Regions from separate parts of the Homo sapiens genome. Here region 2 is linked to region 1. A link means that fine-mapping ties the variant in region 1 to the expression of a gene that starts in the linked region. Tissue or cell type: whole blood. Region 1 holds a variant in brackets; the other region holds the start of a gene. All regions are shown on one strand. Distances are from middle to middle. Region 1 holds the start of ZBED4 (zinc finger BED-type containing 4). Region 2 holds the start of BRD1 (bromodomain containing 1).

Region 1 (15,471 bases):
CAGCAGGAGCCATGGCTCACAACAGCTGCCCACACAGAAGCCAACATCCAGGTCTGGGCTAAACTGAGAAGGGGGCCGGGCACGGTGGCTCACGCCTGTAATCCCAGCCCTTTGGGAGGCAAAGGCGGGTGGATCACCTAAGGTCAGGAGTTTGAGACCAGCCTGGCCAACATGGTGACAGCCCATCTCTACTAAAAATACAAAAACTGGCTGGGCGCGGTGGCTCACGCCTGTAGTCCTGTCCTGGCACTTTGGGAGGCCAAGGTGGACGGATCACGAGATCAGGAGATCGAGACCACCCTGGCCAACATGGTGAAACCCCGTCTCTACTAAAAATGCAAAAAAAAATTAACCGGGCACGGTGGCGCACGCCTATTGTAATCCCAGCTACTCAGGAGACTGAGGAAGGAGAATCGCTTTAACCTGGGAGGTAGAGGTTGCAGGGAGCTGAGATTGTGCCATTGCACTCCAGCCTGGGTGACAGAGCAAGATTCCATCTCAAAAAACAAACAAAAATTAGCTGAGTGCGGTGGCGGGTGCCTGTAATTCCAGCTACTCAGGGAGCTAAGGCAGCAGAATCACTTGAATCCAGGAGACAGAGGTTGCAGTGAGCCGAGATTGTAACACTGCACTCCAGCCTGAGTGACAGAGTGAGAATAAACAAACAAACAAACAAACTGAGAAGGGGAACCCAAAGCTAAAGGTCAAAGACAGTGGCAAGGGGTCTGACTCCAGAAACCCGGAGTCAGAGCTGCTCTGTCAGACGTGCTCAGGAACCCAGGTAAGGGCGTCTTGGAAACGGCACCTTCCAGAGCAAGCCAGCGACCACGCTAAGGTCAGCTGGTCCGTGTTCCATCCCTGAAATGTTCTGGGTCACACGACAGGGTCATGTGGATTGTTCTGCTAGGTGGTTTTGTGGGTCCCCTGTATTTAACACCAGCACCCTCGCCGTGTACCCATACCTTGGGGGTCCGGGCAGTCCCACTAGTGACAGGCCTGACATCGCAGCTATGGCTGAACGCTGCTGGGGAGTCTCTCACTTACAGGATGTGGAGCATGGCTTCTATGACGGAGCAACCAGAGCTCTCCGAAATGCACATGCTCCCGACCCTGCTCCCTGCAGCAAACAGGTGGAGCAGAGACCACCAGGTGGGCCTCGATGAGGAGCAGCTTTGGAGGAAGTCAGCCCCTCAGGGTTTGTCTGTGGAGGTGGCAAGGCAGGAAGGGCGGGGGGCCAGGTCCTCCCGACCCTAATCAGGTAGGGGGCTGCAGCAGTCACAACCCCATCCCCAGGGCCAGGCCAGCATCAGCTGTTTCTATTGCACACAGAGTTTGCTGGGAAAGACATGGGCCATGGCTGCTGAAAAGCCTTCACCTAGAATGAGGTGGGAAGCTGGCTGGCATTGCAGCGCGGCCTTCACCTAGAACGAGGGGTGGGAAGCCGGCCGGGATTCCAGCGCGGCCTTCACCTAGAACGAGGGGTGGGAAGCCGGCCGGGATTCCAGCGCGGCCTTCACCTAGAACGAGAGGTGGGAAGCCGGCCGGGATTCCAGCGCGGCCTTCACCTAGAACGAGGGATGGGAAGCCGGCCGGGATTCCAGCGCGGCCTTCACCTAGAACGAGGGATGGGAAGCCGGCCGGGATTCCAGTGTGGGTCATTTAGGCTGCATGTCCCCTGAATTCCGAAACAACCCGGGGGAGCTGGGAGGCGGCTTCAGCAGCAGGCGCTTGGGCCGGGCAGGAGGTACGCACTGGGATGCCGTGAGGCTGCCTCTGCACCTCATGGACAATGCTCTCCTGGGGCTTCCGCCATCGCCCCCAGACCCTTCAGGGCAACCTCCTCTCCCTATGAGGTCTCCGGAGCATGCTTTCCTGAGAAACTGGGATTACCCCTGCTCTCACCTGCCGGTGTTTCTCCTTGAAGCACTTACTGAGCCTTTTTCTCTGGTTTACGCTGCTCCTCACCACCACCATGTTCCCTACGGCCAGGGCCTTCTTTGAAAACCACCATGGCCCCAGCAGGCAGAGAGGCAAGCACCTCTGTCTCTCCTGCTCCCCTCCGCCTCAGAAATGGCAAAGAGCTTATTTTATTCCTAACAATGCCTCCCAGAATTTGAACTACAAAAGCACATATCCAGTGATGACCAAGGAAGGGATCTGAGGTACTGCAGAATGTAGAAAAACCTAGGTGCTAAAAAGTGGGGAGCAGAAGGGCCTGGAAGGCTGGGATGCAGAGAGGCCCGAATCCTTGAAAGGGCTGAAGCCAGAGAGCTGCTGGAATCCACAGACACTAAAAGAGAAAGCCAAAACCAAACCGCTAAGGGGTGTCACGGGCTAAAGGCACAGTGACTTTCTTACACAGCCAAATGTAAATAAGAGCAATTCCTATAGGTACATTCTCAGGTCCTGAGATTTAAACAGTGAAGGAAACAACGTTGGTAAGGAAGGGCCAGCTTGGCCTCTACCCCAGGGCTGGGCAAAGCCACGCCCAGCTGTTTCACCTGCTCCCTCCTCTCAAAAGACAACCACCACACCAAAGAGAATGAGACCAGAAGCTAAAGCCAGGCAAAGAAAAAAACGCAAAACAAAGTGAAGGACGGCACTGACCACGGTCACTTCCTGCTCCTCATGCCGCCAGGAGTCCACTCCCCAGGGCTCCTCACCAAGGATCTGAGACACACACACACACACACCTTTCGCTAAAGAAGCTGCTTCTCAGCTCCTCTGCACACACACAGAAGTCAGTCCGCTCCCCTAGTAATTTTTTTAGTCTTTCTGCAAGGTGTTATGGACATACTTTGCACAGCTGAGTTACTCACTGTGTGTGTGGAGGGGGTTGGGGAGGAGGTAACCTTAAAGAGCAGAGGTTTTACATCCAACAACATCAACCACCTTATTCAGGAATTACCTGGACAAGAGTGTGTGTTGGGGGAGACCCTGTAACCACCTGTCAAGTGGACTAAAAGTCTTAGGTTTCTTTCCATATAGATTAACTGTGTCCTCACCTCAAAGACCGGGCCTCTGAAGCTTTTTCAAGATTCACAGAATCTCTCTTAACTTGTGCTAGATCTTTTCTTGAAAAAAAGCCAATCATGACAAGCAGATATAATCCGTTTAAGGACTACGGGAAGTGTGCAGCCTTGTACGGACGTCCCATTGGAAACCCTCGGAGTATGGAATCAAACTCCTGTAAACTTTCCTCTTGCAAAGTAACTTTGTTTAGTAATTGCAATTAATTCATAATCAAAATGTGGCTTATTCATAGCACTTAAAAAAAAATCCCAACCAAATCCTTCCTAGCCTCAATTTTGTCACTATGAATGACATACACAGAAAAAATAAAAAACATTTCTGTGTAAAAAGTCGCAGGATGCCCTTGCTTTACCAAACTGGCCTCACTATGAGGTCTGAATGGATTTCTAAAAACGTAATCTGATCAGAGTTAACTTCAAAATAAATAACTTCCCTTTCGACCAACACGAGAACACCAACAGAAGCTTCTGACGGCTCAGCTTGGCCGGGACGTGTTTCCACAGAGGTGCCCGGGTCTACCAGGGCCACCCGGAATAGAAAGGCGCAGAAGGGAGCCCGAGGGGCTGCGATTCTCTTAGCAACGAAGGCGGTGTGGGCCACACAACGGGACAAAAGAAGAAACAAAACTGACTGCGAGCTCATTTGGGTGTAGGAAAACCACTGCAGTCGAAAAACATTTGAAATTATGGTTCGCAAGGCAAGTTACATTTTTATTCATTAAATGTGAACGGTCATCCCCAGAACCACGTACAATAACCTGCCTCGGGGCGCGTCGCAAGGACCCGTCTGGGCTGAGACATGAAGCAGGGCCCAGGTGGCCCTTCCTGGAGGTGGGACGGGAATGACACGTCCAGAGAAGTCCCAGGGACGGGGCTCGCGGGGTTAACTCGACGTGGCCGGGACAGCGCGCTCCCGGCGGACCCGGGCGGCGCCCCGAGCCCGAGCCCCGTCCCGTCCGCCCGGAAGCAACGGCGCGGGCACGTGGGCCAGGCCGGGCGCCGACCCCCGGCACTCGGCCGCTCAGTCGGCGCCGCCCCCGCGCCAGCTGTCAGGGCCGGGGTCCGCGCGGGGGCGGGTCCGGGGCGGCGCCGGGCGGGGACCCCGAGGCCACGGAACCGCGCCCCCGCCCGCCTGGCCCCGGCCCTGGCCCCGGCGCGGCGCAGACAATGGCGCGGCCCGGCCCGGCCCCGGCGCGGTCCGCGGGGGACGGGGCTCGCGGCAGGCGGCGGGGCGGCGGCGCCCGCGCACTCACCTCGGCCCGGCCTCTGGGGCGGCTCCCGGCCGGCTGCGGACGACGGCGGCGCGGGCGGACGCTCCATTCATTACCGCGGCTTTGTCTGCCCCCGCGCCCCTCCCGCGGCCCCGCCGCCCGCCGCCCGCGACGCCGCCGGACGCTGCGCCCCTCCCAGGGCCCCGCGCGGCGCGGGGCGGGGCTGGCCGGGGGCGGGGCCGATCGGGGGCGGGGCCTACTCTCGCAGGCGCAGTGTCCGCGTACCCGCCCCGCCTCGTCCCTGGCCGGGCGGGAGGACGGAGCGCCGGAGGCCCGGCCGCTGGGGCGGGGTCGGGCGGAAGACGCAGGCGCAATGCGCGCTTCGGCTCCGCCCCCGGGTCCAGGAGGGCAAACTACGCAGGCGCAGTGGGCGCTCCGGCGCTGGCGGGCGACGGGAAGGGCTTAGGCGCTCTGGCTGGGCGGGGCGCGGGCGCCTTGGTTTCGTCCCGTGGCTTGGCAGTTGGCAGCGGCTCGGCGCGCACCCAACGGCCCACCGCGGGTTTCCGGGACGGCTAGCAGCGCGGTTCCCGGTCCCGCCCCGAACCCCCTTACCTGGCGCAGAGGCCGCTCAGTGCGGTGCGGTCAGGCCTCGTGGGCTGGGACCTAAGCCGTTGACCCTAAGGCGATCGGGGCTCCCCGCGCGGCCCCCCCGGGGGACGGGATTAACGCCTAAGCCCCAAGCCGGGTCGGCGGGAGGAGGGCGGCCCTCTGGGCGAGCGCGGGGCCGGGGCTGGCGGTGCGGAGCGCACGGGACTCGCCCGCTTCTCAGGGTCTGAAGGAAATGTGCACTTTTAATGTGTTATTTCCTAACACAAATGTTTGAGCAGACCAAATAAACTCTGCATGCTGAATGTGGCCCCGAGGTCCCCCGTTGGTGACACGGCTTTCGGCATTTTCTCGGCCTGAGTGTGAGAGTGAGAGGAGCCCGCGTGGCGGTCACCGGCTGGAGCGGGAGCGTGGAGTTATCACGGCCGCCTCTGCCCGGAGCCCGCCCCTGCCCCGCGGCTGTGCCCCTTCACCCGCACGCCGACTGTTCCAAAGTCCACGTCCAGCCTGCAGCCGGGTTTTCTATGGTGCCTGAGCTAAGAATGCTTTTCTCGTTTTTAAGAGGTTGGGGGAGAATTAAAACAGTATTTTAGCATATATGAAAAGTATATGACATTCAAATATCGGCCGGGCACGGTGGCTCACGCCTGTAATCCCTGCACTTTGGGAGGCCGAGGCGGGTGGATCACCTGAGATCAGGAGTTCGAGACCAGCCTGGCCAACATGGAGAAACCCCGTCTCTACTGAAAAAAAATAAAAAATTAGCCAGACGTGGTGGTGGGCTCCTGTAATCCCAGATACTCGGGAGACTGAGGCAGAAGAATCGCTTGAACCCGGGAGGCAGAGGTTGCAGTGAGCCGAGATCGCGCCACTGCACTCCAGTCTGGGTGACAGAGCAAGACTCCGTCTCCAAAAAAAAATTAAATTAAAATGTCGGTTTCCTAAGGAGTTCAACTGGAACACCACCATGCTTGTTCATGTAGTTAAAAGGTAAACTGCTTTACCTTCCACCATAGCTATGGAGTTGAGACCAGGCACTGACACCCAAAAAGGGCTCCCTGTTTCTTTCTTTTTCTTTTTTTTTTCTTTCTGAGACAGAGTCTCGCTCTGTCCCCAGGCTGGAGTGCGGTAGCGTGATCTCGGCTCACTGCAACCTCCGCCTCCCGGGTTCAAGCGATTCTCCTGCCTCAGCCTCCAGAGTAGCTGAGACTACAGGCGCTCGCCACCACGCCCAGCTAATTTATGTATTTTTAGTAGAGATGGGGTTTCACCATGTTGACCAGGATGGTCTCGATCTCCTGATCTTGTGATCCGCCCGCCTTGGCCTCCCAAAGTGCTGGGATTACAGGCATGAGCCACCGTGCCCGGCCTGGGGATCCCTGTTTCATTCAGAGTGGAGGCCAGTGTTCTCAGGCCTGCTCTGCCCCTGCCATCCCCTCATCAGATCTGCAGCAGCCCCCAGCCTCCTTGATGCTTGCTTTGGGGTCTTCGCACTGACTTCTTGTCTGCCTGGACTGCTCTTCCCCTCTGCCAGTGTCAAGCTCCCAGACGGCTGCCCATATGTCAGCATAGTGGGAGGCTCTCCGGGGCCATGCTCTAGGAAGTAACACTGCGCTCTCCTCATCCCCTCTCCGGGCTCTGACACATCTGACACACTGTATATGCCTGTGTCATGACTGCCCCCCAACAGCCTCCTGCTAGAATCAGTGGGAGGGGGGACTTCTTTGTTGTATGTGCTGAGGGAGCATGCCCAGTGCCGAGAGCAAGGCCCCCTACGCTTTGTGGAGTAGGTTAATGGGGCCCCACAATTGCCTGGCACTCATGTGCAGAAATAGAAGATTCCTGGGGCCAAAGAGCAACAGCTCTTCCCAAAGGGGCCTGCCGGTGAGTGAGTGAGTGCAGGTTGACAGGTCCCTCCTAGTGCCTTCCAAATTGTGCAGGGCAGCCAGGTGCGGCCTATTCTCTGGCCCCTCACAGGAAGATACTGTTTTGTATGTCGGGTGGCCCTTGGACTAAGTGCCCAAATGGGGCACCCTGGAGCATGGAAGGGCACACTAGACATCATGGGGCCAGGACCCAGCATCAACTGGGACTGTTTCGGCAAGCCAGTACCCCATGCCTCCACCAGCTGCAGTCCATTCATTTAATCTTTGATGGGCACTTTCTGTGTGCCCAAGATACAATATCTTATTTTTTCTTTTTCTTTTTTTTTTTTCAGTCTGCAAGTGCTTGGTACATACACAGATGGTATTTATTTGCTGTTTGTCTTAAATTGCATTCTTATGCATCATAGAGACTGCGATAAGGAGAAGAAAAAATATTTTCTACAGGACCATCCAAACATGTAAGTGGCTTTTCATGGGACAGTTTCCCATCACGGGAAAGACATAAGTCGATTCTTAGTCATCCAGAGTGTCAGTATCTTATTTTTTCATTCATCTGAACCAAAGTGTGACATCCCAGGGCCAGGTGTTTTATCTGAGTTCCATGCACAGACTGTGAGCCCCACCTGTACAGGGCAGTGCGAGTCAGGGATGCTCCGCACTGAGGCAGAAGAGCAGCTGGTGCCCTGGTCCTCTGTCCACTGAGGCTGCAGGTGGACCCACAGCATCTTCCGAAGGCAGGGAGCCCTCCGTGCTTGGAGCACTGTGGCCCTGGAGGGTTCGCCCTCATGTGATGTGACTTTGGTTGAGTTTCTTAGCTGTGAATTAAGATTATGAGCCCAGCTTGGGGGTAGGGCATGGAGCTGATGGTGTCACATGTGGAAGCAGCTGGGTGACCCCGAGCCCGGTGACCACTGGTCACTGGGGAGGCACAGACCTCGCTGTGGCAGGGTCCTGAGGGCCAGGGCCTCAAAGGAGGGTGGCTGTGTCCCTGGGCCCCGCGGGAGTAAGGGTGTACACCTGCCAGTCCCCTGCCTACAGTGGTGGTGGGGTGGAGCCCCATGGTCCCTTCCATCTGGAATCTCAGACCTGGCCCCCCTCTGCCACCCTGTGCCTCCCGTCTGCCTTTCAGGGTAGCAAGAATGCTGTGCGCCCCACTGGGGAGGGAGGTGGGGAGGACTCCAGAGCGTCCAGGTGGGGGCTGCTGCAGAGGAGATGGTTTCTCTCGGGTGCAGAGGAGGGTTGGGCCCTGGGCACCTACTGGTCACTCTTCGCCACGACGGGGACCTCACCACGTTGTCCCTCATCCACGTCACCCGCCCAACCCACGCGGAGGGTCCTGAGGGCTTCACCACGCAGCCCTGAAGGGGCAGAGCTGGGGTCACACAGGTATCGGAAGCCCACGCTGTGGCCCCAGGAGAAGGTTCTGGATGTGGCTCCTATGAGTGAAGGGTGGACTCACAGCGCTGCCGGAATAAAGGGAAACCACAGGCAGGAGGGAAGCGCGTCCAGGATCCGCGGCCACCGGCCTCTCAGACTGTCTTCTGGGGCCAGGTCGCGAGGAGATGGAAAGCGGGGGCATCACAGGCTCGTCTGAACCCGCGCGTTCATTCGGCCACACCGACCCCAAACCCCTGCATGCGGGCAGGACCCCTGGTTCTCCTGCGCCCACCCCAGCCCTGCTGGCCGCCGGGGCATTTGAGGGATGGTTGCGGGGGGTCGGAGGGTGGAAGGGGCGTCGGGCAGCCTCGGTGGGGAGGGGAAGAGGCTTCCCGTGCACTATGGACTCCCGCATTCGGGAAGGGAGGCGCTCGGGGTTGGGGAGGGAGGAAAAGGCGGCTGTGTTCGGGGAGGGGGCAGCGAGACCCCGCCCGGGCTACGGGTTGCAGGATGGAGCGGACGGGAGGAAGGAGCCCTGACGCCGCGGACCCCACGCCTGCCGGCCGTCCCCTCCCTCCCTGCCTTCCTTCCTTCCTCCCTCTCCGCAGAGGCAGCGCGGGGACCCGGCCGGGGTGGGGCTAGGGCGGTGCGCCCCGGAGCCTCCAACCTGGACCCCACCCCGGAGGCGCCGCGACCGCGCTCCCGCCGCCTCCAGGAAGGTGCCCGGATCGCGCCGGCGACCGGAGGACTCTGCGCCCCGCCGCCTCCCACCCTGTCCCGCCCCGCGCCTGTCGGCGACCCCGCGGGGCCGGTCCCCGTCTCCACCTGCAGTCCGGGGCGCGGCGCCCTTGAGGGAAGCGGGGCTCTGGGATCCCCCGGCCTGGGCGTGGGACACCCCACGGTCCGCACGAACCTTGGTGGCCCGGGCCCCTGCTCCCCCAGAACAGCGCCCAGGTCTCGGAGAAACCCCCCGAAGCCGTGGGCCCAGACGCTCCCGGGGGACCTCGGTGGGACGGGCAGGGCGGGCGCCGCGGGCGAGGGGACGCGCACTGTCCCCGGGCGAACCAGAAACACCCCACACCGGGCACCTCCCCAGGAATCGCCCACCCACCCCCATTGTTCTCCACCAGGTTTCACCTTACCACCCTCCCCCCAGGCATCTCCCCCGTTGCATCGCCCCCACGCGGGCATCGCTCCCACCCGGGCATCTCGGCTCTGTCCTGCCCTGGGGTGGCCGCAGCCCGCGGGGAGGAAGCG[C/A]GGCGAGGCGCCCACACCGGGAAAGTGTCTCCGTGACTCTGCGAGGTTACACTCCGGGTGCGTCGCTGCGGGCTCGTGGGCTCGTGGGCTGCAGCCCCCCGCTCCTGTCGGGTGGACGAGCCCCGGGCCCGCGTGGAGCTGCTCGGTCAAGGCCGGCCCGGGAGGGGCGCGGCGCAGGGCGGGCAGGGGCGGGGTCCTAGGTCAACGTCCAGCCCCAGACCCAGCCCCGCCGCCGGATCCACCGTGCCTCTGTTTCCCCATTCCTGAGAAATCGGAACGCCGGCGGCACCCCCTTCTCCGGGCCGGAGCCTGCGCCCTCCGGATTGCGCGCCTCTGTCCAGGCGGCGGCCGGGGGTGGGAGCGCGCAGCGGGCCAACTTCCCTAAAGGGAACTGTCGGGAGGGCGCCCAGAAGGGAAAGACCAGGAAGCGCTGGGTGCTGAGCTGGAGTCTGGCCCCTTCCTGGGGGACCGGGGAGGGGGCTGAAGGTGGGGAGAAGACCGCCGGGGCTGCTAGGGGGGCACTGAGGGAGCGTCCAGGGGGAGAACTCTGGGTGGGCGACGCCGCAGGGGAGCTGCCTGGCAGGGGCGAGGGCCTCGGGGAAGTGGAGCTTCTGGCCGAGAGCTGCATCTGTGGCCGGGGAGGGAAAGGGTCACAAGGGCAGTGCGCGCCGGGAGGGAAGCTCAGGCCGGGGGGAAGGGACTGCGCGGCGGGGACAGGTGCGTCGGGTGCTGGACAGTGAGCAGGAGCCCGCCGGTGCTCAGGTCACGAAGGTGCTGGAGCCGGGGGAGCTGGAACGCAAGGGGGTTAAGGGAACGCGCTGGGAAGGGTGGGGGCGGCAGCTGCTCCAGGCTGCGGTGGCCTTGGTTCTGTCTGAGGGTCCATGGGTGGAAAGGCATTTGGAGCTTGTGTTCATAGCTGGGACTGCCAGATTTGGTGGATAAAAATACAAAATTGCGTGGGACCGGACGGGCGCGGTGGCTCACGCCTGTAATCCCAGCAGTTTGGGAGGCCGAGGTGGGCGGATTACCTGAGGTTGGGAGTTCCAGACCAGCCTAACCAACATGGTGAAACCCCGTCTCTACGAAAAATACAAAATTAGCGGAGCATGGTGGCGTGCTCCTGTAATCCCAGCTACCAGGGAGGCTGAGGCAGGAGAATCGCTCGAACCCGGGAGGCGAAGGTTGCAGTGAGTCAAGATTGGGCCATCCAGGCTGGGCGACAAAAGCGAATCTCTGTCTAAAAAAAAAAAAAAGTGCACAGCACGTACATATACTAAAAAATTATTATCTGGAATTAAAATGTAACTGATTGTACCGTATTTTATCTGCAACCCTAATCATAACAGGCATGTTGTTCTCTGTATATAGTCCAGTCAACAGCAAAAGTATGTAAAAAGGTGAAAAAACTACTTATGACACATCCCTAAAGGAATAACTTTAAGAACAATTAGGTGTATATTGCCCAGGGTTTTTGTTTTTTGTTTGTTACCTTGAGTCGGGGTCTTGCTCTGTTGTCCATGCTGGAATGCGGTGGTGTGATCACAGCTCAGTGCAGCCTCAACTTCCCAGACTCAAGCAGTCCTCCCACCTCAGCCTCCTGAGTAGCTGGGAGTACAGGCACCTGGCTAATTTTTGTATTTTTAGTAGAGACGGGGTTTCATCACGTTGCCCAGGCTGGTCTTGAACTCCTGGGCTCAAACAACCTGCCTGCCTCGGGCTCTCAAAGTCCTGGGATTACAGGCATGAGTCACTGCACCTGGCATTGCCTAGTTTTTTGTTTGTTTGTTTTTTGAGACGGAGTCTTGTTCTGTCACCCAGGCTGGAGTGCGGTGGCACAATCTCGACTCAATGCAACCTCCACCTCCCGGGTTCAAGCGATTCTCCAGCCTCAGCCTCCCGAGTAGCTGGGACTACAGGCGCATGCCACCATGCCTGGCTAATTTTTTGTGTTTTCAGTAGAGATGGGGTTTCACCGTGTTAGCCAGGCTGGTCTCGATCTCCTGACCCCATGATCCACCTGCCTCAGCCTCCCAAAGTGCTGGGATTAGAGGCGTGAGCCACAGCGCCCAGCTGGCATTGCCTAGGTTTTATATATGACCATATATTTAAAAAAGAAGGCCAACATGGTGGCTCACACCTGTACTTCCAACACTGGGAGACCGAGATGGGAAGATCACTTGAACCCAGGAGTTTGAGGCTGCAGTGTTCATGTCGGCTGTAGTGAGCCGAGATCGCACAACTGCACTCCAGCCTGGGCAAAAGAAAAGAGTACATATATATATATAATTTATTATTTTTTTTTTAGAGACAGAGTCTTGCTCTGTCACCCAGGCTGGAATGCAGTGGCTTGATGTCGGCTCACTACAGCCTGAATCTCCTAGGCTCAAGGGGTTCTCCCACCTCAGCCTCTGGAGTAGCTGGGATTACAGGCGCAAGCCACTGTGCCTGGCCTAAATGTGTGCCATCTTTATTTCAAACACTTGTTAAAATGCTGTTGTTATTCTTCAGGACAAGAGCAAAAATCACCCCCTGCAGAACCTAGGAGCTACGTGCAGAACTTTACAGAGTTGAGGCAGCGCCGTAGCTGAGGCCTGACTGCTAACCAGGGAGTGGAGCTCTGAGTGCACTCAAGGAACGCAAGGAAGCCAGGCAGGGAGGAAGGGGCCGGCGGAGTCTAACTTCAGCTGCCATCTTTTTTGGTGGCACATCTCGTGGTCACAGGTTGTAGGCTGTGTTTCTGGAAGGTTCAGGTACAGCGCAAGATTCCACTTGTCTACTTGGCTATCTCTGTGCCTGAGGTGCCATGAGGCCAACGGACGTCACTCAAATTCATGTCCAGCCAAACTCCCACAGCAAAGAATCCCGAACCGAGGATGAAGTTCCTCTAGAAAGCATTCCTATCTGTGGCAAAGCTGCAGACACCCCGAAACCCATCTCCCACCTCGTCTGGAATTTCAGGAGCTTCGTTTGCTGAGCCAGTGCACTCATGGCAACCCTGCAGGAAGCCATGTGGCACCTCTGGGCTTTGCACCGTGTGTGTTCTCTTCTCTAAACTGCTGTTTTTGCTTAGCAAAGAGCCTCGCCTGCCACTGATGATGGCAGTGTGGGGTCATTTTGAATGGCTGCCTGACACTGCATGGCACATTCACGTACACAGTCCTGTGGGATCGTGACATAATAAGAAATAGATATTTCATCTCTGCCCCTGGTTCCTGACACAGAGCTCCTAAAACCATTGAAATTTCCTGGATAATAGGAGCTTCTTCTGTTCCAATGGGGTGACTCTTGGTGGGCTCCTGGATGGGGGCTGGTCACTAGCGAGACCACACCATGATGAGAAACCTGGAGCTTCAGCCCTACCCCCACCTCTGAGCAGGGGAGACGGGCTAGCTAGAGGCGCGGTTCCTAATGCGCCATATGCCTACATGAAGACGTCTCCGTAAAAGTCCCTCAGCAGTGGGGGTTTGGAGAGCTCCCAGGTTGGTGAACACATCTCTTTGTGGGGGGCGTGGAGCACCCCAGCTCCCCAGGGCTGGCAGCTCCTGTGCTGAGAACGCTTCTGGACTTCGCCTTACGCACCCTTCATCTGACTCCTCATCCCTATCCTTTATCGTATCTTTTATAATAAACATGTTTCTCGCCAGGCGCGGTGGCTCACGCCTGTAATCCCAGCACTTCGGGAGGCTGAGGTGGGCAGATCACCTGAGGTTGGGAGTTTGAGACCAGCCTGACCAGCATGGAGAAACGCTGTCTCTACTAAAAATAAAAAATTAGCCAGGTGTGGTGGTGCATGCCTGCAATCCCAGCTACTAGCAAGGCTGAGGCAGGAGAATCGCTCGAACCCAGGAGGCAGAGGTTGTGGTAAGCTGAGATCGTGCCATTGCACCCCAGCCTGGGCGACAAGAGCGAAACTGGGCCTCAATAAACAAACAAACAAACAAACAAACAAACATGTTTCTCTGAGGTCCATAAGCCATTCTATTCGTAGCAAAGTATCCAACCCAAAGAAGGGATTGTAGGAACTCCTGAATCACACTTGCTTGATCAGAAGTACCAGCGACCCAGACCTTCCACTGGCACCTGAAGTGGGGGCAGGCTGTGGGACGGAGCCCCTAACCTGTGGGATCCGCCTCAAACTGGAGGTGGAGAGTGTCAGAGTGAATTGCTGGACTCGCAGTTGGTGTCCAGGGGCTAGGAGAAGTGGCTGATGTGGGAACCCTCTGCCCCCATTTGGTGTCGGAGGCAGAGTGTTCTATGTGACAGAGGAGAGGAAAACAGTTTTTTTTCCTTTCAGCAAGGATCTGAAGTGTGTCCCTTTCCCTATCAAAAACAGTTCCCAGGGGAGCATGATCATTTTTGTTCCTTTGCAGATCCTCTAGGTATTTTCTTAGAAAACATTCCTGGCAGGAAACTTTAAATATTTATTTATTTTAAGTTTTAAAATCTTTATTTTTTTTGAGACAGGGTTTTGCCCTGTCCCCCAGGTTGGAGTGCAGTGGCACCATCCTAGCTCAATGCAGCCTTGAACTCCTGGGCTCAAGTGATCCTCTCTCCTTGGCCTCCTAAATGGCTGGGATTACGAGTTTGAGCTGCAGTGCTTGGCTGCAGTGCAAAATTGTATTGAAATAATTGTAGATTTACATGCCATTGTAAGAAATAATAGCATAGAGAGATCTCTTGTATGGTTTGCTCAGTGTTTCCCAAGGGTACCATTTTACAAAACTAGAGTGGAACGTCACAGCCAGGGTATGGATGTCAATACGACCCACGGATCTTATTCAGAGTACCTCAGTTCTACGTCTACTCATTTTTATGTGTATATTAAATTCTGCATGATTTTATCAGCAGGCAAGGCTTGCACACCCACAGTCATGATGCTGAAGGGCTCCAGTACCACAGGATTGCTCATGTCGTCCATCTATAGTCACACCCGCCTCCCTCCTGTCCCCAGCCTGACATGAATCTCTGGCAAACACAAATCTGTTCTTTTCTAAAACTGTGTCATTTAAAAATCACATAGTAGGCTGAGTGCAGTGGCTCATGCCTGTAATCCCAGCACTTTGGGAGGCCGAGGCGGGTGGATCACCTGAGGTCAGGAGTTCGTGACCAGCCTGGCCAACATGGTGAAACCCCATCTCTACTAAAAATACAAAAAATTAGCCGGGCGTGGTGGTGGGCGCCTGTAATTCCAGCTACTTGGGAGGCTGAGGCAGGAGAATTGCTTGAACCCGGGAGGCGGAGGTTGCAATGAGCCGACTTTACGCCATTGCACTCCAGCCTGGTCAACGAGCAAAACTCTGTCTCAAAAAATAAAAAATAAAAAATAAAAAAATCGCATAGTAAGTAGCATTTTTGGATCGGCTATTTTTGCTCAGCATAATTCCTTGGCGATGCTTCATCCCAGTTGCATGTACCAACGGCCTGCTCCTTTTCCCTGCTGAGTAGAGCTGCGTGGAATGGGAGTACTATGGTGTGTTTAGCCATTCACTGCTGAAGGACATCTGGGCTGATACCAGTTTTGGTCTGTTACAAATATAGCTGCTATGAACACTCGTGTACAAGTTTTGGTGTGAACAAAAGTCTTTATTTTTTGGGCACGGTGGTTCACGTCTGTAATCTCAGCACTGTGGGAGGCCGAGGTGGGCAGATCATGAAGTCAGGAGTTTGAGACCAGCCTGGCCAACATGGTGAAACCCCATCTCTACTAAAAATACAAAAAAATTAGCCGGGTGTGGTGGTGGGCACCTGTAATCCCAGCTACTCCAGAGGCCGAGCCAGAAGAGTCGCCGAAATCCAGGAGGCAGAGGTTGCAGTGAGCTGAGCTCGCACCACTGCACTCCAGCCTGGGCAACAAGAGCGAAACTCCATCTCAAAAAAAAAAAAAAGTCTTTTTTTCTCGGGGATGAATGCCCAGAAGCACAACTGCTGGGTCCCATGGTAGTCAGATGGTTAGTTTTTGAAGAAACTGCCAAGCTGTTTTCCAGAATGGCTGTACCATGTTACATTCCCACCAGCAATGCATGAATGGCCCAGCTTCTCCAGGTCTTTGCCAGTGTTTGGTGGTGTTACTGCTTTTCATATGAGTCATTTGAATAGGTGTGA
Region 2 (15,471 bases), 23 kb after region 1:
CTTGTGAGTAGCTAGGACTACAGGCATGCGCCACCATGCCCAGCTAATTTTTGTATTTTTAGTAGAGTCGGGGTTTCACCACGTTGGTCAGGCTGGTCTCAAACTCCTGACCTCAGGTGATCCGCCCGCCTCAGCCTCCCAAAGTGCTGGGATTACAGGCGTGAGCCACTGCACCTGGCCTCATCCTAACTTTATATCTGCAAAGACCCTATTTCCAAATTAGCTCATATTCCCAGGTACTGTGCTTAGGACTTCACCATACCTTTTGCAGGGGGGACACAATTCAACCCATAACCGAGGAAGGAGACAGCAGAGAAGTTTGGGGATGAAGACCAAAAGCTGAGTGCCAGATACGTTGAGTTCGAGATGCCTACAGGACATCCTGGAGGAGAGGCTGAGAAGGCAGCTAGATGTTGGAGCTGTCAAAGCATACTTTTTAAAAAGTTAGAAACAGGGCCAGGCGCGGTGGCTCACGCGTGTAATCCCAGCACTTTGGCAGGCCGAGGTGGGCGGATCACGAGGTCAGGAGATCGAGACCATCCTGGCTAACATGGTGAAACCCCTTCTCTACTAAAAATACAAAAAAAAAAAAAAAAATTAGCCGGGCGTGGTGGTGGGTGCCTGTAGTCCCAGCTACTTGGGAGGCTGAGGCAGGAGAATGGCATGAACCTGGGAGGTGGAGTTTGCTGTGAGCTGAGATCGCGCCACTGCACTCCAGCCTGGGTGACAGAGCGAGACTCCGTCTTAAAAAAAAAAAAAGTTAAAAACATGACTCATACAACTCTAAAGTGAAGACGTGTCAAAGATTTATTTTAATCATTAATGAGGAAACCAGCATGATGGTGAGGCTGGTTCAAAAGATTGGAGAGAAGGAAGTATTTGTAGTGACTTAAAAAAGTTTGAGTAATTCTGCTTATTTAGATTTTTAAAAAAACTGGTTAATGTTCTACAGGGCCATAAACCGCAACCTTTTCTTTTTTTCTTTTCTTTTTTTTTTGAGATGGAGTCTTGTTCTGTCGCCCGGGCTGGAGTGCAATAGCTTGATCTCAGCTCACTGCAACCTCCGCCTCCCAGGTTCAAGCAATTCTCCTGCCTCAGCCTCCTGAGTAGCTGGGATTACAGGCGCCCACCACCACGCCCGGCTGATTTTTGTATTTTTAGTAGAGACAAGGGTTCACCATGTTGGCCAGGCTGGTCTCGAACTCCTGACCTCAGGTGATCCTCCCACCTTGGCCTCCCAAAGTGCTGGGATTACAGGCGTGAGCCACTGCGCCCAGTCAAACTGCAACCTTTTTTACTGTAATCTTTTCCACTGGACAGAAATAATTTCTATCACTCACTACTGGGCAAAATTTATTTGCATTGCTGTCAGAGAGGAATAATTTTACTTAGCCATCTATCTTCAACAAATTAAAGTCTACCCTTGCTGAGTTGTAAAATATCGTAATCAATAGTATATAGCAAGTTAAGCAGGCGCACACTCCAGAGGATCCGAAAATCTGCCTGGCAGGCTTGCTCAGGAACATAGCCTGCCACTGAATGGACACACTCATTTTGGGGTGTCTAATCCTTAATCTGGGACATTTTTATTAGCTCCCTCTTGGGATGATAAATAATCTCCGAAGGTTATTCTTGACCACAGAAAGCTAGTCTTGCATTCTGACCTAATTCATCTACACAGGTGCTGCAAGAAGTGGTAATTACCACGCACGAGTGTCCTTGTTAGGTGACACATGTAAACCAGATGGCGTTATGCAATGACCAAGCCGGAAAATCAACTTCTGTCTGGACGTGTCATCATAAGGAATGTAGGACTGAGCCTACATCACACCTGAGATTTTTTGTTTTTTAATTTCTCTTATTTGCTCTTCTGTTCCTAGGCCAGGAAGCCGAACCAAATCCACCTCCCTCAGGTGTGCCCGCGGGACCTGTGTGTGTGCAAGTTTCTATCTTCCAGAAGGTTCCAGTGTCTGCCATGGCTCTTGGCCTGCCAGGAAGTATCCTTCTTACTACTTGTGAGGCTGAGGCTTTGTGTGCCAGAGTACAGGTGCCCGGCCAGTATGGGTCTGAGGGTTGTGTGGGCATTGGTTCAGCACACAAGCCACAACCCTTGTTCCTTAAAGGTGGGCGTGTTGTGGAAGCACAGGAAAGTTATTCTCAAATATGACACCCATGTAAGGCCTGGGCTCCACTATTAATTTGTCTGATTATATCCTGGTGACAAGGAGGACAAATTTCTACTGCAACAATGCAAATTACTACGTTTTTATTAAAAGTAAATGTCAGTAAAACTATTTTTCCTGAATTCTGAAGTGAGAAAAACACCATTTAAAGAACGTTTTAATGTTTGTGAAAGGATAGTCTCCTAAAGTAGATTGTTGCAGATACCGGGTAAAAATAAAAATTAAATAAATTAAAGGTGAGATAGATCAAAGAAGAAGGGTTTTGTCTTATTCCTGCCAGAAACAGAATATCAGAAACAACATGAGCATCCTCCTCCTTGCCTTTTCTTGGGCTGTGCTTTCAGCCTGCAGATATAACCATTCTGGAGAGCAGTGATGCCCCCAGAACCGCATTTTTGGCTGGTGCAAAATGGGGGGCAGTGGTTGTGTCTGGGGCCAAGTTTCTGTCCTGTATAGCCTAGAGATGGTTATGTAGCGGGGGACTGAGCTACTAAGTGAAGGCATAGATAGTTATGTAGAAACAGAGGAGGGTAGAATCAACTCCATGCTAGATTGTAACTGGAGGTACAGGTATCAGTATGAACTCAAGGTTTGCTAAGAGGTATCAGAAAAGATATGGGTGTGTGTGTGTGTGTGTGTGTGTGTGTGTGTGTGTGTGTGTGTGTGTTTGTACATACTTATTTCCTAGCTCTGTCTGCTGAGTGTAAATGGAATCATATTCTGTAATCTTTTGAGATTTCTTTCTTCCATTTAAAATTATGTGTTTGAGATTTGGCCGTGTTGGTGGTGGAATTCATTCATTTCTGTTGCTGTGTGCTATTCCATTGCGTGGATACACCTCACTTTGTCCATTTTACCGTCCTTTGATATTTAAGATTTCTCCCAGTATTTGCTATTAAAAACAGCGTTAAAATAAAAAAAAAAAAACACCAAAAACAGTGTTGCTCTGAACATTCATGCACATGCTTCCTGATGAACAAGTTTCTTTTTTTCTTTTCTTTTTTTTTTTTTTTTTTTAGATGGAGTCTTGCTCTGTTGCCCAGGCTGGAGTGCAGTGGCGCAATCTCTGCTCACTGCAAACTCTGCCTCCTGGGTTCACACCATTCTCCTGCCTCAGCCTCCTGGCTAATTTTTTGTATTTTTAGTAGAGATGGGGTTTCACCGTGTTAGCCAGGATGGTCTCAATCTCCTGACCTCATGATCTGCCTGCCTCAGCCTCCCAAACTGCTGGGATTACAGGCGTGAGCCACGGCGCCCGGCCCTGATGAACAGGTTTCTTAGGCACACACCCAGGCACGGAATGCACCTAGGAATACAAATTGACTTAACCCTACAGCCGGGAATGGGTATGCACACTGGGGGAGCTTGCATCTTCTCAAAGTGGCCACAACAACTTCTCCCATACAGCATGCTTCTCTTAAAATGTGATGATAACACATGTCCCAAGAGGTGGGGTCTGTATTCTCCCTAACTCTTGAATCTGGACAGGCTTGTCCCTATGGCAGAAGTGATGCGTGTGACTTCAGAAGCTAGGATGTGAAAAGTGATACAGGTCCCACCTGCTTCTCTTGAGACCCTTGCTCCTGCAGCATGGCTACTATTCCATGAGGATGTTCCCAAGGCCCTCAGCCCAGAGCCTGGATCAAGGTCCCAGCCACGTGAGTGCACCATCTTGGAAGTGGCTCCTCCAGCCCCTAGTGGAGGTGCCCCAGATAAGGATGCAGGAAGTAGTCTAGTTGTACCTGCTGAATCCTGCCCAAATAGCAGATGTGTGAACAAAAGGAATGACTGCTGTTTTGAGCTACAAAGTTTTGGGGGTGGTTTGTTTTGCAGCAAGAGGTAACTGATAAACATGTCCACTTTCACTGGGTAACGCCTTATGACCAAGATATTTACCAAATAATTGTCCCACTCGACATTCTGGCCAGCAGGGTATTGCTCTGCCATCTTGCCATCGCTGAGTATTGCCACATATGAACGCTGGTGCCTATTTGGTGTGTATTTTGTTTGCATTTCCAAATTTACTAGTAAGATGATTGGCCTTTCCATGTTCTCTGCAAGAAGCCTGATTATGACATGGGTTTCTTTGTTGATTTGGGTTTTGTGCATCATTTTGTTGGCTTGTTTGTCTCTTTCTAATGGATCTGAAGGGGTTCTCTATATATTCTAAATACTAATCATCTGCAAGGTGTACATATCTTTTAGTTTTTCATTCTTCAGTCTCTTTATGGTGCCTTTTGAGGAACAAACATATGATAATTTCCATCCTTTCATTTACGAAATGGAGTCTTGCTCTGTCACTCAGGCTGGAGTGCAGTGGGGCAATCTTGCCTCACTGCAACCTCAGCCTCCTGGGTTCAAGTGATTCTCCTGCCTCAGCCTCCTGAGTAGCTGGGATTACAGGCACGTGCCCCCATGCCTGGCTAATTTTTCTATTTTTAGTAGAGATGGGGTTTCACTATGTTGGTCAGGTCTTGAACTCCTGACCTCAGGTGATGCACCTGCCTCGGTCTCCCAAAGTGTTGGGATTACAGGCATGAGCCACTGTGCCTGGCCCCATCGTTTTATTTTTCATCTGTTATTTTTCAGGTGAATTTCTTGTAAGAATATTTCACCATATTTATATTCCATTCAGAGAGGTTGTCTTTTAATAGATGCATTTAATCCAATCACATTCCTCTGATTACTCAAATGTTTGAACTTAGTTCTGCCAACTCATATTATGTTCTGTATTTATCATGATTTTATCTTTTACTCATTCCTGTTTTTTTTTTGTTGTTGCTGCTGTCGTTTTTCATTTCGCTTTTTCCTCAGCTGTTCTGAAAGTGGTAAATTCTTTTTCCACCATTCTTGTGGAAACTTTCTGATAGTTAAAACTTTTTTTTTTTGTTTTTTTGAGATGGAGTTTTGCTCTTGTTGCCCAGGCTGGAGTGCAATGGCACCATCTCAGCTCACTGTAACCTCCACCTCCCAGTTTCAACCAATTCTCCTGCCTCAGCCTCCCAAGTAGTGGGATTACAGGCATGCGCCGCCACGCCCGGCTAATTTTTTTTTTTTTGTATTTTTAGTAGAGATGGGGTTTCTCCATGTTGATCAGGCTGGTCTTGAACTCCCGACCTCAGGTAGTCTGCCCGCCTCGGCCTCCCAAAGTGCTGGGATTACAGGTGTGAGCCACCATGCCCAGCTAAAATTTTTAACCTTTTTTTCTATCGATTCTAAAATCCTCGAACCAAACAATACAAGAGCTTTCGTGCACTTTCACTTCCTTCTGCGCCCCGCCTTACCATGTGTCATGTTGAGTTCATCCGGGATTTCTCTCAGGTTGATTTTCTTTTAACGGACCAGACTGATTTACTTGCTGGCATCCACGTCTTACTCTTGGGTCCACTTTTCACTTTGTTAAGGTATTTCTTCTAGTACTTTTACAGACTGCGTGTGTGGTAAATGTGGATGTTAACCGGCGGTGAAGACACCTTTATTTTGCTGTCTCACTGGAACGCTAGTTTCACTGTGTATGAGTTACGGTTCAATTCTCTTAGTATTTTGGCAACCCCTCCTCTGTAGGATGAGTCTGAATTCTAAAGAAGATCCTCTCCGAAGGCCTTCCTGAGTATCCCTGTGACATGCCTACGTTCGAGGCTTTGTTCTTCACTCCTCTGAGCATCACCTGCATTGTCTGAGAGGCCACTGTCCCCGTCTCCTCTTCTGTGAAGGGTTTCGTGTCTTTTCATCTTCTCTTTCATGAGACTGTGTCTTACTTTTGCTCTGTGTTGTGGAGAACCTCCAGCTTGGTTTCCATCTGGCTTCCCTGAGGTGGAGGAGAGAAGCGTTCGGGCTCAGCTTGCTTGTTTGGCCACAGGTAAACAGACATCTGTAGAATGGAGGTGACACGAAGCTCCTGGGTCTGGTGCAGAAGAGGTCAGGGCCCCAGTGGCCTGTACCCCCTAAGCTCAAGGGTGTGTCTGCAGGGAGTCCTAGATCAGGACTGACCACTGGGGCCTTGGCTGGGGTCCTACCTGCCCTTGAGTCGTCACGTCACAACCCACACACTGGGTGCCATGGGCATGAGGACTGGCCAGGAAAAGGCCTGTGGGGCCTGGCCCCTATCAGGGACACTTGGGCGAACAAGGCCACCCCACTCCCAATAAGGTGTTTGGTGCAGTGCCCCGAGCAGTGGGGCCGCTCGGCTGCCCCCGTGGGGACGGTCTGTCCCAGGGTGGACAGCTGCTCTTCCTGAGGGGCCTGCCTGGATGCCACAGGCTGTGCTGCTGGAACCCAGGGATTCCACAGCACCATCGTCCTGATCACAAATTCTCAAGGAAACCAAGGAGCTCCTGCCTCACCTTAAAACATTTGGGATTTAATCTTGGAGTGAAAATTGTTATGACCCCACTGAATTTTAGAGTTTACACAAAAGGCCAAAGTGAAGGCAGAGACTCAGGCCTCTCAACTCCCACCCGCAGGGGCCTTTTCTTGCAACCTTAAAGGGCATCTGCTTCACGCCGGCCTCGGCAGGGCCCTCACACTGGCAGGACTACTTGCACACCGGGCCTGACACTCACTAGGGGAGGCTCCCCAGCCCGGCTGCACCACCCACCTCTACCTAGTCGCGTGTCCCGGCCAGTGCCCTTTCCACTCCCACCCAGTGCCCCCGCAGGGCCCCCTCTGTCCTCTTAGGGACCTCCACTCCCGGACCAATAGCCTCCTGCCTCAGGGCCCCCCACTCATGGGCCAATCGCCCCCTGCCTCAGGCCTCCCCCCACTCGTGGGCCAATCGCCCCCTGCCTCAGGCCCCCACCAACTCGTGGGCCAATCGCCCCCTGCCTCAGGGCCCCCCATTCCTGGGCCAATGGCCTTCTGCCTCAGGGACTCCCACTCTCAGCTGGTCCCCCCCGCCTCAGGGACCCCCACTCCTGGCCGTTCCCCCGTCAGGGCCCCCGACTGGCGGCTGCTCCCCCATCCTGCCTCGGGGCCCCCCACTCCCGGGCCAATGTCCTTCTGCCTCAGGTACCCCCACTCCCGGCCCGTCCCCCCGCCTGTGGGCCCCCCACTCCAGGCCGGTGGTAGCCCCTGCCTCAGAGCCGCCCACTCCTGGGCCATCTCCTGCCTCAGCGACCCCACTCCTGGGCCAATGCCCTTCTGCCTCAGGGACCCCCACTCCCAGCCGGTACCCCCCTGCTTCAAAGCCCCCGACTCCCGGCTGCTCCCCACCTGCCTCGGGGCCCCCCACTCCTAGGCCTACGTCCCCCTGCCTCAGGGCCCCTCATTCTCCATCCTCCTGACCCCCTCAGGGACCTTCTGGCCCGGTCCTCCCTAACTCAAGGGCCCCCACTCTCCATCCTCCCGACCCCCCACTCCCAGCCCGGTCCCCGCCGCCTCAGGGCCCCCTTTGGCCCCCGCTCCTCGCGGCGCCCCCTCCCCCGCGCGCGGCCGAGGCAGCGGAGTCCGCGCGTCATGGCGGCGGCGGGCGGGGCGCGTCTCGCACGCAGCGCGCCGGGCGGAGCGCTCGCCGCATTGTTTGCTTCGCTGGGGAGCGAGCGAGCGACCCGGCCCTGGAGTCCGAGCCAGCCCCGCGTCCCGCGCCCGCCGCCCGCCGCCCGCTCCCGCGCCCGCGCCCGCGCCCGCCGGCCGGGCCCCCCGAGCCGGGCCTCCAGCTGGGCCCCGAGCCCGAGCCCGCGCCGCGCGAGCCGCTGCCCGAGAGTCCGCGGCCGCCGCTGCCGGGCCCGGAGCCGCCGCGGCCGAGAGGGGCCCGCGCCCAGGAGCGGCGGCGGGGCCCGGCCTGCGCGGCCGTTGGCGGAGGAGCCGCGGGCGCCATTAGCACCGCCTCGGCCGCGCCGGCCCCCGCGCCCGCCCGCTTGCCGGGCTCCCGCGGCCGCGGCGCCCCGAAGGTGAGTGGGCGGGGGCCTGGCCGGGGAGGCCTCCCCGCCGCCTCGCGGGCCGCCCGGCCGCCGCCGCCGCCTCGGCCCGGCCTCTCGGGGTTGTGGTGCCGACGCCATGTTTGGCGGCGGCGGCGGCGGCGGCGGCTCCGCATTGTCTGCGGGCCGGGAGCCCGGGATGCCGGGGAGGCCGGGCGGGGAGACCGGGGAGGTCGGGCCGGGCGGCCGGGGAGACGGGCGGGAAGACGGGGAGGCCGGGCGGGGAGACCGGGTAGGTCAGGCCGGGGAGTCGAGGGAGGCCGAGTCGGGCTGTGGGTCTCGGCGGCCTGGGCCGCGGGCGCCTGCCCGGAGTCCGCGCTCGAGTCGGGTCGGGCCTCGGGCAGCCGCCGAGCCGGCCGGGCCGCCCCTTATGTAACAGACAGGCCCGCCGAGCTCTGCCAAGACGGGAACTCCCTGTGAGCAGGGACGCGCCCCGAGATCGCCCAGGAGCCGCGCGGCCTGCGGCGGCCGGGCTTGGGAACCGGCACCGCGGCCTCCCCGGGCGTTTGCAGGGAGACGCCTCGCGACGAACGCGAGGCTTCCCCGGGCCTTTTAAAACGAGTGACACGATTGAGGCGCAGTTCACGGGAAACGCGGCTCTTGTGAGCGGACGCGGGAGTTCTGAGAATCCGTAGCAGCGGGACCCCCTGCCCCGCGGGGTGCGGCCCCGTCTCCCCAGAAAGCGCGGCCGCCCGTGTCTGTTTTTGAGGGTCTGTCGCCAGGTGGTTGTGTAGTTAGTGGAATCGGCGGATGTTTTTGTTTGGCCGGCCCAGCGCCGTCCCGAGTGCTGTGTGCTGCACACAACTTCGCACAGCTCAGCGGCCGCGGCCCCTGTGGCCTTGACCGAGAGGCCCGGCGCGTGGCCGGCTTCTCCCTGGGCGGGCGGTGGGAAGATGGAAGCGGCCGTCTTGTGGGCAGCCTTCCCCGCCTGTGGCCCGCAGGGCTCTTCGATGTACTTAAGGGAATTATTCCTTGAGAAGCTACGTGTGTGCCCCCGCGGATCCCTCCCAGTGGAAATGCTTGTCCCAGTGGAAGGGCCAGGGACAGAACCGGCCCAGGGGGGAAGCGGTGAAGCAGAGGAGGTCGTGGGTCGCCCTGCCCTGCTGAGGGCCTACTTTCCCCGGGTCCCAGTTGCATGTTGAGGGTATGGAGCTGCTGTGGCCGTGAAGCCTTCGGTTCAGTTCTCCCCTTGTAGAAAGTGTTGCGATGAAGAGCTTCACGGCTCCCTGGGAGAGAGTGGGTTTCCAGGGGCTGCTTGTCGTTAGGGCGACTCAGGACTTTGCTGTCGAGGGGAAAATGACAGGTTCGTTTCTGATCTGGTGAGTAACCAACTGTTGCTTCTGCCCCACCTCAGTAATGACGCGTGTCGGCGTCCCGGGTGCACTAGGGTCGCTCTCTGCAGGCTGTGGTGTCACCTCTGCAGGGCTCACGGGGCCGGCTGGGGGGTGGCTGTGCTGACAGCTCCCCAGGAATCCAGGGTTGAGTGGGTACCTGGAGGCCCTGGAGATGCAGGGGGTCTGAGGTTTGGCCGACCACATTTTCTCTCCTATTCCTTTCTGTAGGTAATTGCAATCTAGTTTCAACATACAATGAGGATTTCTGTCTGATACAGAGAAAGATACCCAGTGTCTGGAGGGTCTGTCTTAAGAAGTGCTCTTGAAGTCTGCTGGGATTTCCTTTCGGGACTCACAGAGGGAAGCCTGCTCCCTGAGGGCTTTTTCTCAGGCCCAATAGATCAGGGTAAGGCTGCTGTGGGTGCCCCTGATCCCCCTGGGCCCCGAGGCCAGGCGTCCCTGACGTGGCAGGGCTAGATGCAGAGTATGCCTTGGGCTTCAGCTGAGAATATTTGTTTTGCGAGTCAGTCACTGAAAAATCATTTTGCTTCCTGTCAGTGAAGTGTGGCGCTTTGGAGGGAGGCACTGCCCAGCAGGCGGTGGTCTTCACAGGAGGTGTCCACACACCAGGCACCCTGGGGACAGCTAGGAATAGACGCAGTCCGTGGTGTTGGGACAGCAGAGGCCTCTGCCACGAGGAGCTGGAGGTATGGGAGGCAGCTCACTGGTTTTGCCTACCTCTGGAAAAGCAGATTCTCCTAAGCCTCTGTGGCCAAGTCTTCAGGCACCTGAGCCAGCGCTGGCGACCCTCCTGGTGAGGGTCTCTGCAAGCAGCGAGGGGTTCCTGGGGGTCACCCCTCGCTGTGGAGCCTGAGTGGAGCGTCTGCCTTCACGTGTGCCGGGGAGAACAGAGATTCCCTTTGGCGTCATGCATGTGTCTGGATTCTCTCAGAAAGGAGGAGGACGTGGAAGGAGGAGGACGTGGCCAGCACCATGGTCTCAGTGGGGCTTGAGGAGTGCCCCTGAGGGGAAGGGGCAGGTTGGCTCAGCCTGTGGTGGTTTCCATGGTGGTCACTGCCAAGGCTCTGCAGAAGCGGGGTTGGGGCCTCCCAGGGGCCAAGACTGTCCCCTCAGACCAGTACAGGGCTCCCCTGTTGGTCCCCTGTGCCGTGTTGTGCGTGTGGAGGGCCTGTCTATAGAGGATGGACAGGCTGTGATCTGTCTCCTACCCCTGGCCCCAGCAGGAATGCTGCAAGGACTGTGGTGACTCTGGGCTCATGGGAGTGCTCTCCTGGGAGTAGTGGGGAGGGGAAGAGTGGTTTAGGGGGAGCATCCGATAGGACCAGGTAGCCACTGAGCATGCCTGTCTGGTGGGCATAGCCTCTGTGCCTGGTGGGGTCCAGCCCTGTATGTGGACTTCCTGGGGGACCGCCTGCATGCTGGGAAAGTCCTGCAACTGTGGGCTCTGGGCCGGACCCCTCCTCCTTGGGGAGCGTTGCTGTGGTCTCCGCAGCCTGTTGGTGTGGTCTGAGAGGGGACTGGTGTGTGGTGGTAGGGACGCAGGTGCTCAGGAGGGCTCCTCAGGCTGCCTCTCTGCCTGTTACTGCTGCTCCCTCCCTGGTCCTGGGGACTCGCTCAGGCCTGGATGTGTGGTTTTGGACACCTTGGAAAGAGGTTAGCTGTGAGTTTTGCTTTGATTGGGCTTTGAGCTGCTGAGCTAGATCTGTCCAAGCATGCTTTTGTGGTTTTCTCGAGTCTTTGGTCACCCTGCGTAGAATTACCTTTACTTTTGCCTTCATTTTAGGTAATCATTACCAAATGAGGAGGAAAGGACGATGTCATCGAGGCTCTGCAGCGAGGCATCCTTCTTCCCCATGCAGTGTTAAACACTCCCCTACGCGAGAAACGCTGACCTACGCTCAAGCTCAAAGGATGGTAGAGATAGAAATTGAAGGGCGCTTGCACAGGATCAGTATTTTTGATCCCCTGGAGATCATATTGGAAGATGACCTCACTGCTCAAGAGATGAGTGAGTGCAACAGCAACAAGGAAAACAGCGAGCGGCCTCCTGTCTGCTTAAGAACTAAGCGTCACAAAAACAACAGAGTCAAAAAGAAAAACGAGGCCCTCCCCAGCGCCCACGGCACGCCGGCCTCGGCCAGTGCCCTCCCGGAGCCCAAGGTGCGCATCGTGGAGTACAGCCCTCCGTCCGCCCCCAGGAGGCCTCCTGTGTACTACAAGTTCATCGAGAAGTCGGCCGAGGAACTGGACAACGAGGTGGAGTATGACATGGACGAGGAGGACTATGCCTGGCTGGAGATCGTCAATGAGAAGCGCAAGGGCGACTGCGTCCCCGCCGTGTCGCAGAGCATGTTTGAGTTCCTGATGGACCGCTTCGAGAAGGAGTCGCACTGCGAGAACCAGAAGCAGGGCGAGCAGCAGTCTCTGATCGACGAGGACGCCGTGTGCTGCATCTGCATGGACGGGGAGTGTCAGAACAGCAACGTGATCCTCTTCTGCGACATGTGCAACCTGGCCGTGCACCAGGAGTGCTACGGGGTGCCCTACATCCCCGAGGGCCAGTGGCTCTGCCGCCACTGCCTGCAGTCGCGGGCCCGGCCCGCCGACTGTGTGCTGTGCCCCAACAAGGGTGGTGCCTTCAAAAAGACAGATGACGACCGCTGGGGTCACGTGGTGTGTGCCCTGTGGATCCCAGAGGTCGGCTTTGCCAACACGGTGTTCATCGAGCCCATCGATGGGGTGAGGAACATCCCTCCAGCCCGGTGGAAACTGACATGCTACCTCTGTAAGCAGAAGGGCGTGGGTGCCTGCATCCAGTGCCACAAAGCAAACTGCTACACAGCATTCCATGTGACGTGTGCCCAGAAGGCTGGCCTGTACATGAAAATGGAGCCCGTGAAGGAACTGACTGGCGGTGGCACCACCTTCTCCGTCAGAAAGACCGCTTACTGTGATGTCCACACGCCTCCAGGCTGCACCCGGAGGCCTCTGAATATTTACGGGGATGTCGAAATGAAAAATGGCGTCTGTCGAAAAGAGAGCTCGGTTAAAACGGTCAGGTCCACATCCAAGGTCAGGAAGAAGGCAAAAAAGGCTAAGAAAGCTCTGGCTGAGCCCTGCGCGGTCCTGCCGACCGTGTGCGCTCCTTATATTCCCCCGCAGAGGTAAGCGTGTCCAAGCATTGAGTCCACAAGGAGCCTGCAGTGTGGGACCCTGGGAGGACGTGGGCACAGCCTGCAGGGCCCGTGCTGTGTGGTCATTGCGTTTCTAGTTGGCGCAGCTTCCTAATATTCCCCTGAAGTGTGGTTCTGCTTGTTTACCACGTCTTTTTGGGGAATAGATGTTGTAAAAGATTTTAGTCTGTAGGCTTGGAATAATCTGTAGTTTTCTATGTTTTTTTTTTTGGAGACGGAGTTTTACTCTGTCGCCCAGGCTGGAGTATAGTGGCGCAATCTCAGCTCACTGCAACCCCCGCCTCCTGGGTTCAAGCAATTCTCCTGCCTCAGACTCCTGAGTAGCTGGGACTGCAGGCGTGCGCCACCATGCCCGACAAATTTTTGTATTTTTTAAGTAGAGACGGGGTTTCACCATGTTGGCTAGGCTGGTCTCAAACGCCTGACCTCAAGTGATCTGCCCGCCTTGGCTTCCCAAAGTGCTGGAATTACAGCACTTGCTCAGCCTTTTTTTTTTTTAAATAGGGTTTTGCTCTGTTGCCCAGGCTGGAGTGTAGTGGCACGATTTCAGCTCTCTGCAACCTCTGCTGCCAGGTTCCAGCAATTCTTGTGTCTCAGCCTCCTGAGTAGCTGGGACTACAGGCGTGTGCTCCCATGCCCAGCTAATTTTGTATTTTTAGTAGAGGCGGGGTTTCACCATGTTGCCCAGGGTGGTCTGGAACTCCTGAGCTCAGGCAGTCTGCCTGCCTCTGCATCCCAAAGTGCTAGGACTATAGGCGTGAGCCACCATGCCCAGCCGTGCGTGAAGATTTTTAAGAATTTCAGTGACTAAACTTTAAGAAGGAATGAAGCCCACGCAGGAACTCTGTATGACTTTCAACCCGAGGGGCTCTGGCCTGGGCTTCCCAGTGACTGCCGGCATCGGGACATCCACTGCTGTGGCCTTGGCCCCGTTTCCCGTGCTGTGCCCCCCACTTGCTGCAGATGCCCTGAGGAAAGGGTGGCCAAACAAGGGGAGGAGCTGTGAGCACAGATGGGGCCTGCCGGTCAACAGGGCGGGTAGAGCCAGCCTGGTGCTGAGCTTGCAGCTTGGCTGGGGGAGACGCCTAGAGCCCCAGTACCACACAGACCCTCCAGGACTGCCGGGGGTCAGTGAGCAGGACCCTCTGAGGTGTCAGACCTGCCCCACATGTGAGGGGAGGACAGCACAGGTGGGACGCATGCAGGCTGAGCTGCATCGGGCGGTGAGGCTGGGAGGTTGCAGTGAGCTAAGATTGTGCTACTGTACCGCAGCCTGCGTGACAGAGTGAAACTGTGTCTCAAAAAAAAAAAAAGAAGTTTTAAGTGATTTTTGTTAATATTACTCTACTTTACCAAAGTGAAGTCCAGTTTCTTTTCACAGAGCTGTAAATACTCAGATAATTAGTCAATTCAGACAGAATGAACAAAAAATGCTCATAATCCTTCCCATCCAGGGAAAACCCTGTCAAAACCAAGGTGTTTGTCTTTGTAAATTAATCTGACTTTGAAGAGATGGTTTTGCTTGGATTTCTACCTATGAGTCAAAAAGTCTAGGGTTTGTATTAAGAGCTTCTGTATAAGAGGTCTAAAAATTTCAGCTTTACTGAAATTGAAGCAAAATAAACAAAATGTGATCTAACAAAATGAAGAGCCAAAAGTCTGAAGTGCTCCCTTCCCTGGCCAGTACCAGATGATGACCTGCTCTGGGAGAGGCCGGGCCTGGCCGGGCCGCACGCTCTCTGTTCTTTGGCTCCTGATGTTGGGTAGGCAGGACTGAAGGAGGCAGTGTTTGCATGCAGGACATGGGGGCTGAAGTGGCCAGGGCTGATTGAGAAGAAAACTCGACCTAAATATTTGAAAGCATGTATTGGAGCTAAACCGCGTACTGTGTGGTTCTGTTCTTTTCCTAACTTGGGAATAAACTATTATTTCAGCTTCGAGTAGAGAGAGAGAAACAAACCTGGACGAGTGTTCCTGGCCGCGGTCTCTGCAGTCTGGGTTTCCCAGTCTCCAGGAGATGCTGGTGCTTCAGGCCACCTTGCCACCAGTGGAGGAGCTCCCAGTGCGCCTGGCCTGTTGGCACCATGGTGCTGGACCCACCTCTGGGGTGGTTGTGAGGGGCAGGCTCTCAATACAGTACTGACTGCTGCCTGAAACCGGGTTTACTGCCTTGCTGTGGTCTGAGAGGCAGCTGATCTGGCAGCCCTGTTCTTAGGCCCTGGGCACTACCCCTGGGTGCATGTAGGAGGCCTCAGCTGTGCATTTGAATTCTGTGTAGATGAGGGTGAAGCTTCTTATTTTTTATTTTATGTTTAGAGACAGGGTCTTGTTCTGTTGCCCACGTTGGAGTGCAGTGGCGTGATCATGGCTTACAGTAGCCTCAAACTCTTGGACTCAAGCGATCTTCCCGCCTCAGCCTCCTCCCAGCCTCAGCTGGGAATACAGGCACGAGCCACTGTGCCTGGCCCATGGTGAAGCTTCTTGATGTGCAGCCGTGGGCGGGGATGCTGAGTCTAGTTGGTTATGGTGTGCACTAACCAATGGCTCCGGTGTAGGACCCACCTAGAGCATCTGAGGATGTTATGCTTCAGGCCAGCCAGTCACGCTGGAAGGGAGATGAGACCCCATCTGAGCAGCGTTTTAGAGATTTTAGAGAAAGAGGATCTTCCTTATTCCCTGTGGACAGAACAGAATCTGCCTTCAGGGACGGACTGCTTTTATAATTCTAGTGGTTTAAAAAATTAAAATTTCAAGTAAAAAAGATAGTTCTTTTTTTTCCCCCCTTTTTTTTGAGGTGGAGTCTTGCTTTGTTGCCCAGGCTGCA

What was found. PIP is the estimated chance that this variant, and not a neighbour inherited with it, causes the effect.
Region 2: BRD1 starts here. The variant in region 1 is fine-mapped to the expression of BRD1 in whole blood (TOPMed, PIP above 0.99).

Annotation. Positions count from the first base shown.
Region 1 is chr22:49,842,804-49,858,274 of GRCh38, reverse strand. It overlaps ZBED4 (zinc finger BED-type containing 4), which reads right to left and starts at 4,431. Exons shown (of 2, transcript NM_014838.3): 1 at 4,286-4,431. LOC124905156 (basic proline-rich protein-like) reads left to right here and starts at 8,623. Exons shown (of 3, transcript XM_047441701.1): 1 at 8,623-8,677; 2 at 8,721-9,855; 3 at 11,878-13,015. The coding sequence starts at 8,623. The coding sequence ends at 9,754. It overlaps LOC105373091 (sterile alpha motif domain-containing protein 1-like), which reads right to left and starts at 8,685. Exons shown (of 2, transcript XM_011530661.3): 1 at 8,195-8,685; 2 at 7,605-8,093. The coding sequence starts at 8,527. The coding sequence ends at 7,605. It overlaps LOC105377205 (a long non-coding RNA gene), which reads left to right and starts at 4,763. Exons shown (of 5, transcript NR_188597.1): 1 at 4,763-5,839; 2 at 7,068-7,193. It also overlaps LOC124905147. RefSeq lists an enhancer at 938-1,598 and silencers at 3,784-4,073, 4,244-4,973, 4,994-5,083. The variant C/A (reference allele first, on the strand shown) is at 9,370.
Region 2 is chr22:49,820,097-49,835,567 of GRCh38, reverse strand. BRD1 (bromodomain containing 1) reads left to right here and starts at 7,695. Exons shown (of 13, transcript NM_001304808.3): 1 at 7,695-8,071; 2 at 11,237-12,617. The coding sequence starts at 11,251. It overlaps LOC105377205 (a long non-coding RNA gene), which reads left to right. Exons shown (of 5, transcript NR_188597.1): 5 at 1,881-3,119. RefSeq lists silencers at 7,561-7,630, 8,361-8,530 and enhancers at 9,031-9,230, 10,440-11,019.